Linked DNA regions of Homo sapiens. The main gene of each other region encodes a partner of the protein of the gene in region 3 in a complex. Each region holds a gene or a part of one and is shown on either strand. Other genes may lie near its edges.

Region 1 (3,654 bases), on a different chromosome or scaffold from region 3:
ATGAAAAAATGAGTTGAATCACCTTGAAAACTGAGTTCTGTTCAAATGTAAGTTGGTGTTGTCATCTGACAGGGATAGGATATGAAGGACTATGGGATTTTAAAAATATATTTATTGATGTGGAAAAGTGAATGACATTGAGTCCTTTAGCCAGAAAGCAATGTCTTCATTATTGTTACTTCTAGTTTGGCATCCAACCCCAAAGCGTCACCCTAAGCTCTGGGGCCTATGCCATTTTAATTCCATGGCGTCCCTTCCTGCCCTTGAGGGGCTTCCTTCTGGGGGCTAAGCCTCCTTCTCAGGACCAAGTACTCTGGTATTCTTCAGGGGAGGTGAGTGCCTTCCTGTGTGTGTCCAGAATCAGGGTTACATGAAAAAGGTTTTAGCTGCCTCATCCTCACTTTCTCACTCCCCTCTCTCCTCACCCCTAGGCTTCTCCATGCATAATGAGGAGCCTTTTGCCCTTTTACTCTTCTCCATGGTTACCAAGTTCTGCAGTGGCCTGGCTCCTCACTTCCCCATAAAGAAGGTCCTGCTCCTGCTCTGGAAGGTGGTCATGGTGAGTAATTCTCCCCACTCCCACATTATCAGATCAGCAATGCCCTATGCCACCTCAGTTTCTTCTAGTCTCATTCCAGGAGGCTGGATCCAGGGAGCAGAACAGGCAGCCCTTAGCCAACTGCTAATATGGAGGGGCAACAAGGCTGTCCTAGAGACATCAGATGTTCTATGTTAGAATGGGTTTCATGTTTCTATTGGATGGATGGGAGATGCCACTCCATAAATTGGGGATGTCAGTGGTACCTTCTCTTATTAAAGCCAATGTTTGATGGAGAGAACACTGGTTGAAAGTTGGTAGATCTGGGCTTTGCTGATACTGAGAAACTTTGGGCAACTCTCTGTGCCTCAATTTCTCTAGCTGTAAAAGGTTGGGGTGAGTGCCTGCCCTCCCTCCAGATAAACAGAGGTTTTGTATTTTTTTTTTAATAAAAATAATTTTTTCTTACAGACAGGCCTCCCTGTGTTGCCTGGGCTGGTCTTGAACTCCTGGTCTCAAGCAATCCTTTCACCTTGGCTTCCCAAAATGTTGGGATTACAGGCATGAGCCATTGTGCCTGGCCAGGATTTGCTTTTTAAAAAATAATGAAGTTCTTATAAATATGTGGTTACATTTCTGTTACTAGTTATTCAACCTGATCCTTCATTTTTGGCTCCCATCTCACAAGGCAGGCCTAATAGGGGGAACTGCCTCTTGACTGCAGAGGAAATTGAGTGACTCTGGGGGTTTATAGCACCTGGATGGTGTTCCTTAAAAAAGTCGATAGTTTCTTTTTTTTCTTTTTTTTTTTTTTTGAGGAGGCCCGCAGGAATTCCTTTCCTAAATTCTGTGATATTTCCCATACTGGGGCAGTAAATAATGCCTTATCCTGACCCCTGAGCTCCTCAGTTGCCGTGGGGATGGTAATCATATTTGCCTCTTTATGTTTTACTACCTCCTTATTAAGGAAAAGGTCTGAAGGGACTGGAGGTTGTGGCCCTTTCTTTTCATCCATGTTTCCCTGACCTTGGCTCTCTCTTACTTCCCTTCCTTCCTCTCTCTCTGCCCCTTTCCTGTTTCTTCCTTAGTTTACCCTCGGTGGATTTGAGCATCTGCAGACTCTCAAAGTACAGAAGCGGGCAGAATTGGGCCTGCCTCCACTGGCTGAAGACAGTATCCAGGTGGTGAAGAGCATGCGTGCTGCCTCCCCGCCCTCTTACACTCTTGACCTGGGAGAGTCTCAGCTGGCACCCCCACCCTCCAAGCTGCGAGGCCGCCGTGGCTCTCGAAGGGTATGGACTGAAGCAGACAATGGTATTGGGACACCGACTGGCCAAAAATCAAGATTCTAAGTTACTCTGGGTGTGGTAGGAAAAAGCAGTAAATGACCCGGCTCATCCTGCCCAGGTTGGCCCTATGACCAACCTGAAATCTTAGGGTCTCTAGTTTGGCCTCTGTCCCCCAGCCCTGACAGCCCCCTGCGCTGTTGTGATGTGACACTGTGATATCATGTCATATATAGCCATGTCTTGCTACAGAATCATTGGCCTGGACCTCAGTGCCTGGAGTTCCTTACATTCTGAATAACAATTAAGGGTATAATCCTGGGGATAGGGACCCAGGATACCGGAACAGGTCTCCAAGCAAATCCATTTTTCTGGGGTAAGGCATTTTACTATTTTGAAGCACCAGGAAGTTTTACTGTCAGCCAGCCACACTCTTAACTGGCCCTGGAACCAAAGGCTTACATTTAAGAGATGACTGGGTAGGGGTCTATGTATATAACCATGTGACACTAAACGACAGGGATACAATCTGAAAAATGTGTCATTATGCAATTTTGTCACTGAGCAAACATCATAGAGTGTACTTACACAAACCCAGATGGTATAGCCTACTGCACACCTAGGCATATAGCCTATTGTTCCTAGACTACAAACCTGTACAGCAGGTTACTATACCGAACACCATATGCAATTGTAACCCAATGGTGTTTGTGTATCTCAACCTAGAAAAGGCCAATAAAAATACAGTATTATAATCTTATGGGTCCACAATTACATATGCAGTCCATTGTTGACTGAAGCATCGTTGTGCAGCACATGACTATAGTCTGCTGTCCTGAAAAGGTCAGAATGAAAAGTTATACTGAGATCTGACTATGTTCTTACAAACTCCCCTGCCTGACCCACTTCAGTTTATCAACAGGGCTAGATAGTAGTGCTCAGTAATCCAGTCTCCATTATCTGCAATAAAATTTTTTAACTTTATTTTTGTTTTATAAAGTAATGCTTACTCATTGTAGAAAATTTGGAACAAATATAAAAATGTGATGAAGGGAGAAAAGAAAAATCACCCACAATCTTAACAACCAGAGACAGTCACTGTTAACTTTTTGGCCTATTTCTGTCCAATCTTTTTTTCTTTGTCACAAGATTTAAAATTCCAAACTTGCTTCCCTCTGCCTAGCAGCAAGCTTCTGTCCTCCTCTTCCTCAGTCAGCCAGCTGGTGTATGCTCACAGAAGGCAAACTAATTGAATGTTCACCTAAGCAGAGCATAATTAGGAAGGAAAGTGCTGGCAAAAAAAGGCATCACTGCTTTCTGAAAGCTAAGTAATTGTGACTTTGGGATTATCTATGCTATGTTCCCTGGCTAATGGCAGGGTTACCTGAGAACTTCTTGTCCTGTTATTGGGCCGGGTGGGGACAGTAGGTTAAGGTGGGGAATTGGATGTTTTCGCAAGGGCTGTGTTCAGATTCCATGTTCCCTGAAATGTGGAGGCCTGTGGATATGGGGTGGCCTCAGACAAGGATGCCCAGAGTGAGATCTCTGCATGCCTACCCTCCCTTCTTTCCCCTCCAGCAACTCCTCACTAAGCAGGACAGCCTGGACATCTACAATGAAAGGGATCTCTTCAAGACTGAGGAGCCCGCCACAGAGGAGGAAGAGGAGTCTGCTGGTGATGGAGAACGAACCTTGGATGGAGAGCTAGACCTGCTAGAGCAGGACCCTCTGGTGCCACCTCCACCCTCACAGGCACCCCTCTCTGCTGAGCGGGTGGCTTTTCCCAAGGGCCTGCCCTGGGCCCCAAAGGTCAGGTAGGTTTGATAGCAT
Region 2 (3,654 bases), on a different chromosome or scaffold from region 3:
TATATAAATTAAAAAATAATGTCCAATTTACATTTTAGTATATTTCCTATTTTATAGAATGATGCTGTGAAAGCCTCTTTCCAGGAGAGTGGGTCAAAACCCTTACAGCACTTTAAAAACATCTGGGGCACTTTTACAAAATATCTAAACCCTGACTCCACTCCCAGCCAACTGAATCAGAATCTCTGCAGGTGGGGCCTAGGCAGTGGGAATTTTTTAAAAACTGTCCTCAAGTGACTCTAATGCACAGAAAGGATTGACAACTATTGCTTTAACTTTAGTGCAGTAGTTCTCAATAGACCTGTAATGTATCACCTGAAAATTTCTAAGAAATGCAAATTCTTAGGCTCCATCCTAGACCTACGAAATCAGAAATTCTAGAAGTGGGACCCTCGAGCAATTTGCAATTTGACTGTAACAAGTCCTCCAGATGACTCTGATGCCACTAAAGTTTGAGAACCACTGTTTCAGGAGTGTATAAAGTAGGCCAATGAACTAAAATTGCTTTTACATTTTTAAATGGTTAAAAAACAAAAGAAGAATATTATATGACAGGTAAAAATTATTTCAAGATACTGAAATTTGAATTTTGTATAAAGTTTTATTAAAACACAGTCACACCCCCTTGTTTGTACATTGTCTATGGCTTGTTTCTGTACTACAACAGCAGAGATGGGTGGATAACGGCAACAGGCCCACCAAATCTAACATATTTACTACCTGGCTCTTTTCAGAAAGCGTCTGATAACTCCTGTTCTAGAAAGGAGTTATGGCTAGATTAGCAACCATTCATTTTCTATTGTTAATGGTCTGCCTTCATTATCAGTTGCCTGGAGTACTAATAATAAAATAAAAGGGCTTAATTTATGTGGTTTTCATATCATATAAAACCACATAATCTATTTAATTTTAAAAGTAAAGGATAAATTACAGTACTTACTTGCCATCTTTAAAATACGTTTTCAGAGTATCACTGAAACTTTTGGAGTACTTTACAAATTCTTTCTTTTGGTGTTCAAGTGCCTACAGTCACAAAATATAATAAGAAATAAAGTACTAAATAAGAGAAATAATCACAAAAGCCAAAGGCAAGGACAAGAGATTACACAGGATATGGGATGCACTTTATATGAATATTACTAATAAGCAATTGTGGAGTACTCACTTTTAAATAAAAAGGCATATTTAAATTCAAGAATAAACTCAATGGTTAATGACACAAAACTATTTCCAACAATCAATCTTATTTTTAAGTCAATAAAACAACTAGGCATAAACCAACATCTAGGGTGTCAACTAGCAAGGCTTCTACTAAACGTACCCTGCGGTTCTGGTATTGATATTTCTTGAAGACATTATTCACTGTATCAAGAAGTTCTTTTATTGCACTAGCTATATCCCTGTTGGGAAAAGAATAAAGAATATCAGCTACATTTGAAAGAAATTTGTGAGAGAAAAGAACATCAGCTACATTTGAAAGAAATTAAGTACACTCTTAATCTAATCACAGTACACTCTTAATTATGTTAAGCGCAATCACTTCAAGAACAGCCAGCCTTTTCGGCTAGCTGGTTGGAGTGGGGATTTTAGCCTATACCCCTCTGTAATCCTGATTCTCTTGCACTGCTGACCAAAGGTTGCCAACCAAGACCAACTTTCTCAAATCAATCACATTTCATTAAGCGTTCCTTACTCAAATTTATAAAAAGATAAACATTACCTATGCCTGTCTTTTCCCATTTTAAAATTTTTCTTTGCTCTGGCTAATGTAGCTAAATTCAAGCTACCATGTTCTCTACTTTTGTTATTTGAACAAGGAACAATTTTATAATATTCTGCATTACATATAACTCAATTCTGTATTTAACAATGCTGTATGCTAGATACCTATTAGTTTTGATGTTTAACATAAAATATTTCCTCCTCAGAAAATATTCCTCTCCCCTGAGGAAATATTCTTCCTCCCTTACTCTTTTACAGACACTTTTAGCTTCTATCTAGCAGCCAAATATCCTCCTCTTTCAAACACTTACTATCAGTCACTATTCCCTTTGGAAAATATTTAAATTACTAGAGGAGACAACATCACAATATTCTTGCACTTTAACCTTCCCAGCAATCATCCTTTGACTATATATGCATCATCACCTCCCTCCCCTTTCTAAAGAAAAAAAAGAAGAAATGAATAATTCTCATTTGAGTTGACTGTTCTTCCTATCCATGCACCATTTTTTCTGAACTTTTTTTTGCCTTTCTAACTAGCCCCTTTTGATTTCCACATTTTAACCTCATAGCAATTTTTTTCCGCCAAATTGAACTTGATGTAATTCTGCATTCTCAAATAGTCTCACATTCTCTGCGACAAACCTTCTTTTTCACAGTCATTCTCTTAGCTGTTAGTCACAACAAAAACTTCAAATGCAATGCAACTGTGAAGAAATGAATAAGATGGAAATCTGCACCATCCTAAACATAACATTTTATTACTAATACTAATTACAAATGCCAGATTTCAGTTATTTCCTATCTAAAACATTTCAACATTCCTATTTCAAGGGGAAAAAAACCTCAGTGTCCAGGTTTCTGTGTGCATGTGGGTGTTTCCCAGCATATTTTTCAGTAAATAAGCTTGTAGAAATTTTAAGAATTAAAAGCATACAGAATTTTGATATTTTTTAAAAAAGTATTTTAGAGTACTCTGAAGTAGTAATTCCATTTTCATTGATTATTTCAATAATATTTTACTTATTACCTCTCTCAGGTCAAACACTGGTATTGGGCTGAAACATTGAAACATTACATATTCAAGTAGGACAGTAAGTCTTACATAAATGTTATCTAATTTTTTTTTGCCTCTGGTTTAGTAACAGCAGTTTTTAATTAGATAACTATTCCTTTCATTTATGGCTTAAGTTGAATCTTTGTATATTGGTGTGATGGACATAAACCCACTATTGTTTAATAAAATGCTGTCATAGGACTATTCTGTGAGAAAAATTACAATTTCAACAAATAAAACATGTCAAATCTCTAAATATGCAAGCTTCTCCAAATCCACAATGGAGTTATTTAAAATGGAATATAATGGAGCAAATTACATAGTGATCAGACAGAAGTTTATATAGTCTTACTTTGTAGTGTATTTCAATATTCTGCTAAAGAGGAATAAAATGTGTTTCCGGGGCTAGTCATCAAAATGAGCGTATGTTTCATATACAATAACAGTGGCTAGATTCTACAAGTCAAAAGAGTGGGTCTGAAACATGTTGCCTCATGCACCTAGGGAGACAAAAACACAGGGGAGAAGAAGGGAGGGTTTTGCTGGACAAAAAAAGAAAGACCTGCTGATAAATACTGGAAATCTCTATTTTAAAAGGGGGTGGGGGGAGGCGCAACTCCTCAGGTGACTGCTGATGAGTCAGGTTTGAAAACTTGGAGCTAAGGTTTAATGCCTTATTGGAACAGAGCTCTCTGTCAACCAAGGCCATTTATTCCTAAGCCTCTGTTTGGACACGAGGCAAAAGACTGTTAAATGCCTACCAAATTGTAGAAAAAATGTTCTCTAGAAACAATCTGCAGCAATGTATGTCAAATATTATGTTATCCATATGTACACAGAAAAGTATTTTCATTTATGGCACCAAGGTGTGCACA
Region 3 (3,654 bases):
TTTTAATGGGGAATAATATTTTCCCTGGCTTTGGGAAAGATATTAAAAGGAACTTTACAGTATGATTCTGTTCTCTGTAAAAAGAATTTAGAGTAAAGGTCTGTCTTAGAAACTTGGAACCAAACTAAAGGATCACATCTTAAAGCTCTTCTGTCTCTGATTCTTCCTTACCTTAGACTCAGGTAAAGCATTGTTAGTAAGGTCATAGGACAGTGGTTTCTTAACTTTTATATAACATGAATTACCAAAATTCCACAGACAGTCCATTTTCTTCAAGCCCTAGATCAATCCAGATCTCCAGAGGATAAGAGGCCTGCATATTTTTTAGAGTTCTACAAGTGATTCTTTCTTCACAGTAGTGCCTGTTAAAGAGAAAAATTACTACACTACACTTTTCTTTTTTGTAATTTCATAGTAGATTCATTAAAATCTTGTCATGGAAAAGACACTAGGATTTGCAAATTACTATTCCAGACCAGCTTTTGAAAACCCTGAAAATGGAAAATTCAGGAGATTCCCCCCTTAAAAATGAAGAAATCAAGTAAGTCTAAGCAAAATATCTCCTACTAACTTAAGGATCTTTAAGCAGCAACATCTATCATGTTACGACTTCTAAAAGTTAGAAACTGCCATTTAATCAGCACTATAACCTCATGAGGTGAGTATTCCTGTTTTACAGGTGAGGAGACAAATTTAGGTAGGTTAAATCATTTTGCCAAGGTCACCTAGCCATAAAGTATTGCAGCTGAGATTTGAACCCAAGTCTGTCTGATTCCAAAGCCTGTAGTCATGTTACCACTCTTGTAACCATTATGTTATACTGTCTTAGCTCTTTTTTATAGAGTGGAATCTGACTTGTAATTCTTCATCTAGTATTGCGTGGCCCACACCACTTGAGTACATTTCAATAAAGTTTTATTGAGCGCCTGTGATGCTGCTGCAAGGCATAGTTTATATATATTGCTAATGTGTCCTTATATTTTTCTTTATAGTTTGTATGTAGTAAGTGGATTTTGGGTATATACAAAATGCTTGTTTGCCAAGTGTAAAAATATGACATAGCTAATACAAGAAAATGTAGTCAAAGAGTTTATGTTCTTTTTTTTTTTTTTTGAGATGGAGTCTCGCTCTACTGTCGCCCAGGCTGGAGTGCAGTGGCACCATCTTGGCTCACTGCAAGCTCTGCCTCCCAGGTTCACGGCATTCTCCTGCCTCAGCCTCCCCAGTAGCTGGGACTACAGGTGCCTGCCACCACGCCCAGCTAATTTTTTTGTATTTTTAGTAGAAATGGGGTTTCACCGTGTTAGCCAGGATGGTCTTGATCTCCTGACCTCGTGATCTGCACACCTTGGCCTCCCAAAGTGCTGGGATTACAGGCGTGAACCACCGCGCCCGGCCGACAGTGATTTTTCATAAAGGTGTTCCCTTTGTTCTGGGATTTTTAGCCTTCATACATTTTTACTGTTAGGCATTTCCTTTTTCAGATGATGGTGATAATAGTTAAAAAAATTTTATTGATAGTATTAAGGGAGTCCACTACCTTGTGTCAGATTCCCTGTTTCTTTTTGAAGCCCTTGAAATGAAGTTTAGGGACCACTGATCTAGAATTCTCTTTATGCTCCTCCACTACCCATTAACCCCACTCTGTAGTCTGCCTTTTCGCTTTCTTCTCTCCTCCCTTCTAAACACTTCGTAGAACACTATGTTTTCTGTTCATGATTGACCTTCAAATTGCCAAATCCTTTGGCCTTATAAACCGTATGTACTTAACCAACACTCTGTTGTTAACAAATCCTTCAAAACTGTTTTCTTTTGCTTCCGCTCTGTTTTTCCTGTCATCCACTTATCACTTTTCTTCATATGTTTTCTTTCTTTTGTTCCCAGTTGTTATTATGTGGGGTTCTGGTTCTATTTTATGTTCTCACTGTATATTCAGAATCAGATTTTTAGCTACCATGTACCATCTTAATAATACCTAGCATTTATTTACTCTTTCCTAATTGTTATTTCAGTGCTTCAGTATTTCAGTATTCATTTAATTCATTCAGTATTCATTTAATTCTCAAAACAACTCAGTGAGGTTGATACAGGTATAATTGGTGTCTTTTTTTTATTTTTTCTGACACTGGCATATCGAGGCCCAAAGGTTAAGTAATCTATGCAACTAGGAGGCAGTAGAACTGGGATTTAAACTTAGACTGCCTGTAGAGGCCATGTTCTTAACCACTACTAGATTTTTGGCGTCCAGATGTCCCTTGTATTTCTAACTTCCGTTTAGTTTTTCTACCTCAAATTCAATACATCCATTCAGTTAATCTCAAGTGCCTGCCTCTTTCCCTTGACAAAACACACTTGCTCATTCTTTATTCCTTGCCACATTAAAGTTAACACTATCCTCCCCATCGCTAGTACTATAGAGGTCATTGAACCTTCCCCCTGCGTATGGCCTGTGAGTTTTATTGATTCCAGCATGATTATTTGGTGATATTTGAGTGCGATTTTGTGCTAGATCCTGGGTGTATAATGATGTATGAGACACAGACTTTGTCCTCAGGGAGCTTATACTCTAGAAATAATTTTTTTTTTTTTCAAGAGAGCGTCCTACTCTGTTGCCGAGGCTGGAGTGCAGTGGTGCCAACATGGCTTACTGTAGCCTCAGGCTCCCGAGCTCAACTGATCCTCCTGCTGCAGCCTCCCGAGTAGGTGGGACTACAGACATGGACTATCACACCAAGCTGTTTTTATTTTTAGTTCAGGTGGGTTCTCAGTTTGTTGCCCAGGCTGGTCTTGAACTCCTGGGCTCAAATGATTCTCCCACCTCATCCTCCCAAAGTCCAAGTATTGGGATTACAGGCATGAGCCATCATGCCTGGCCAATAAAATGTTACAACAAATTAGCAGAATGCTGAGAGAATAAATGGTGATAGGAAACCTGTATATGTAATGGAGTTTCAGATAATACCTAATATTTATTGAGCACTTTCTTTTTTTTTTTTTAGAGACAGTTTTCGCTCTGTCACTCAGGCTGGAGTACAGTGGTGCTATCTCAACTCACTGCAACCTCCACTTCCTGGGTTCAGGCAGTTCTCATGCCTCAGTCTTCTGAGTAGCTGGAATTACAAGCACCCACCAACACGCCCAGCTAATTTTTGTATTTTTTGTAGAGATGGAGTTTCACCATGTTGGCCAGGCTGGTCTTGAACTCCTGACCTCAAGTAATCCGCCTGCCTTGGCCTCCCAAAGTGCTAGGATTACAGGCATGAGCCACTGCGCCTGACCTATTGAACACTTTCTATATGGTTGACATTATTTTTGGTTCTTCAGTACATTTAATTCTCATAAAGTTCCTAAATGTATACTTCTAGATCTGAAGTATCGGGAATACCTAATTGTACAAAGAACATGCCAGTTGGAAGCTACAGCATTTAGCAGAAGTTCTAAAGTAGGAAAGAGCTTCATTTAAACTGTGAACTGGCCAGGTGTGGTGTCTCACGCTTGTAATCCCAGCGCTTTGGGAGGTTGAAATGGGAGGATCACTTGAGCCCAGGAGTTGGAGACCAGCCTGGGCAACAGTGAGACCCTGTATCTAAAAAAGAAAAAAAAAAAAAAGAAAATGAGTGAACTGGACTATAATGATTCAAAAGGCTAAGTAAT

What was found.
Region 1: STRN3 (region 3) and STRIP2 share a complex: the UniProt entries of both Homo sapiens proteins name them as parts of the core of STRIPAK complex.
Region 2: STRN3 (region 3) and PDCD10 share a complex: the UniProt entries of both Homo sapiens proteins name them as parts of the core of STRIPAK complex.

The regions. Positions count from the first base shown.
Region 1 is NC_000007.14:129,454,813-129,458,466, forward strand, and holds part of STRIP2 (striatin-interacting protein 2), read left to right. Parts: intron 1-431; coding exon 432-559; intron 560-1,626; coding exon 1,627-1,830; intron 1,831-1,887; exon of another isoform or gene 1,888-2,200; intron 2,201-3,010; exon of another isoform or gene 3,011-3,270; coding exon of another isoform or gene 3,271-3,402; coding exon 3,403-3,638; intron 3,639-3,654. UniProt on the Homo sapiens protein: Plays a role in the regulation of cell morphology and cytoskeletal organization. Required in the control of cell shape. Calmodulin-binding scaffolding protein which is the center of the striatin-interacting phosphatase and kinase (STRIPAK) complexes.
Region 2 is NC_000003.12:167,686,294-167,689,947, forward strand, and holds part of PDCD10 (programmed cell death protein 10), read right to left. Parts: intron 1,401-3,654; coding exon 1,322-1,400; intron 1,024-1,321; coding exon 941-1,023; intron 1-940. UniProt on the Homo sapiens protein: Promotes cell proliferation. Modulates apoptotic pathways. Increases mitogen-activated protein kinase activity and STK26 activity. Important for cell migration, and for normal structure and assembly of the Golgi complex.
Region 3 is NC_000014.9:31,019,842-31,023,495, reverse strand, and holds part of STRN3 (striatin-3), read left to right. Parts: intron 1-3,654. UniProt on the Homo sapiens protein: Calmodulin-binding scaffolding protein which is the center of the striatin-interacting phosphatase and kinase (STRIPAK) complexes.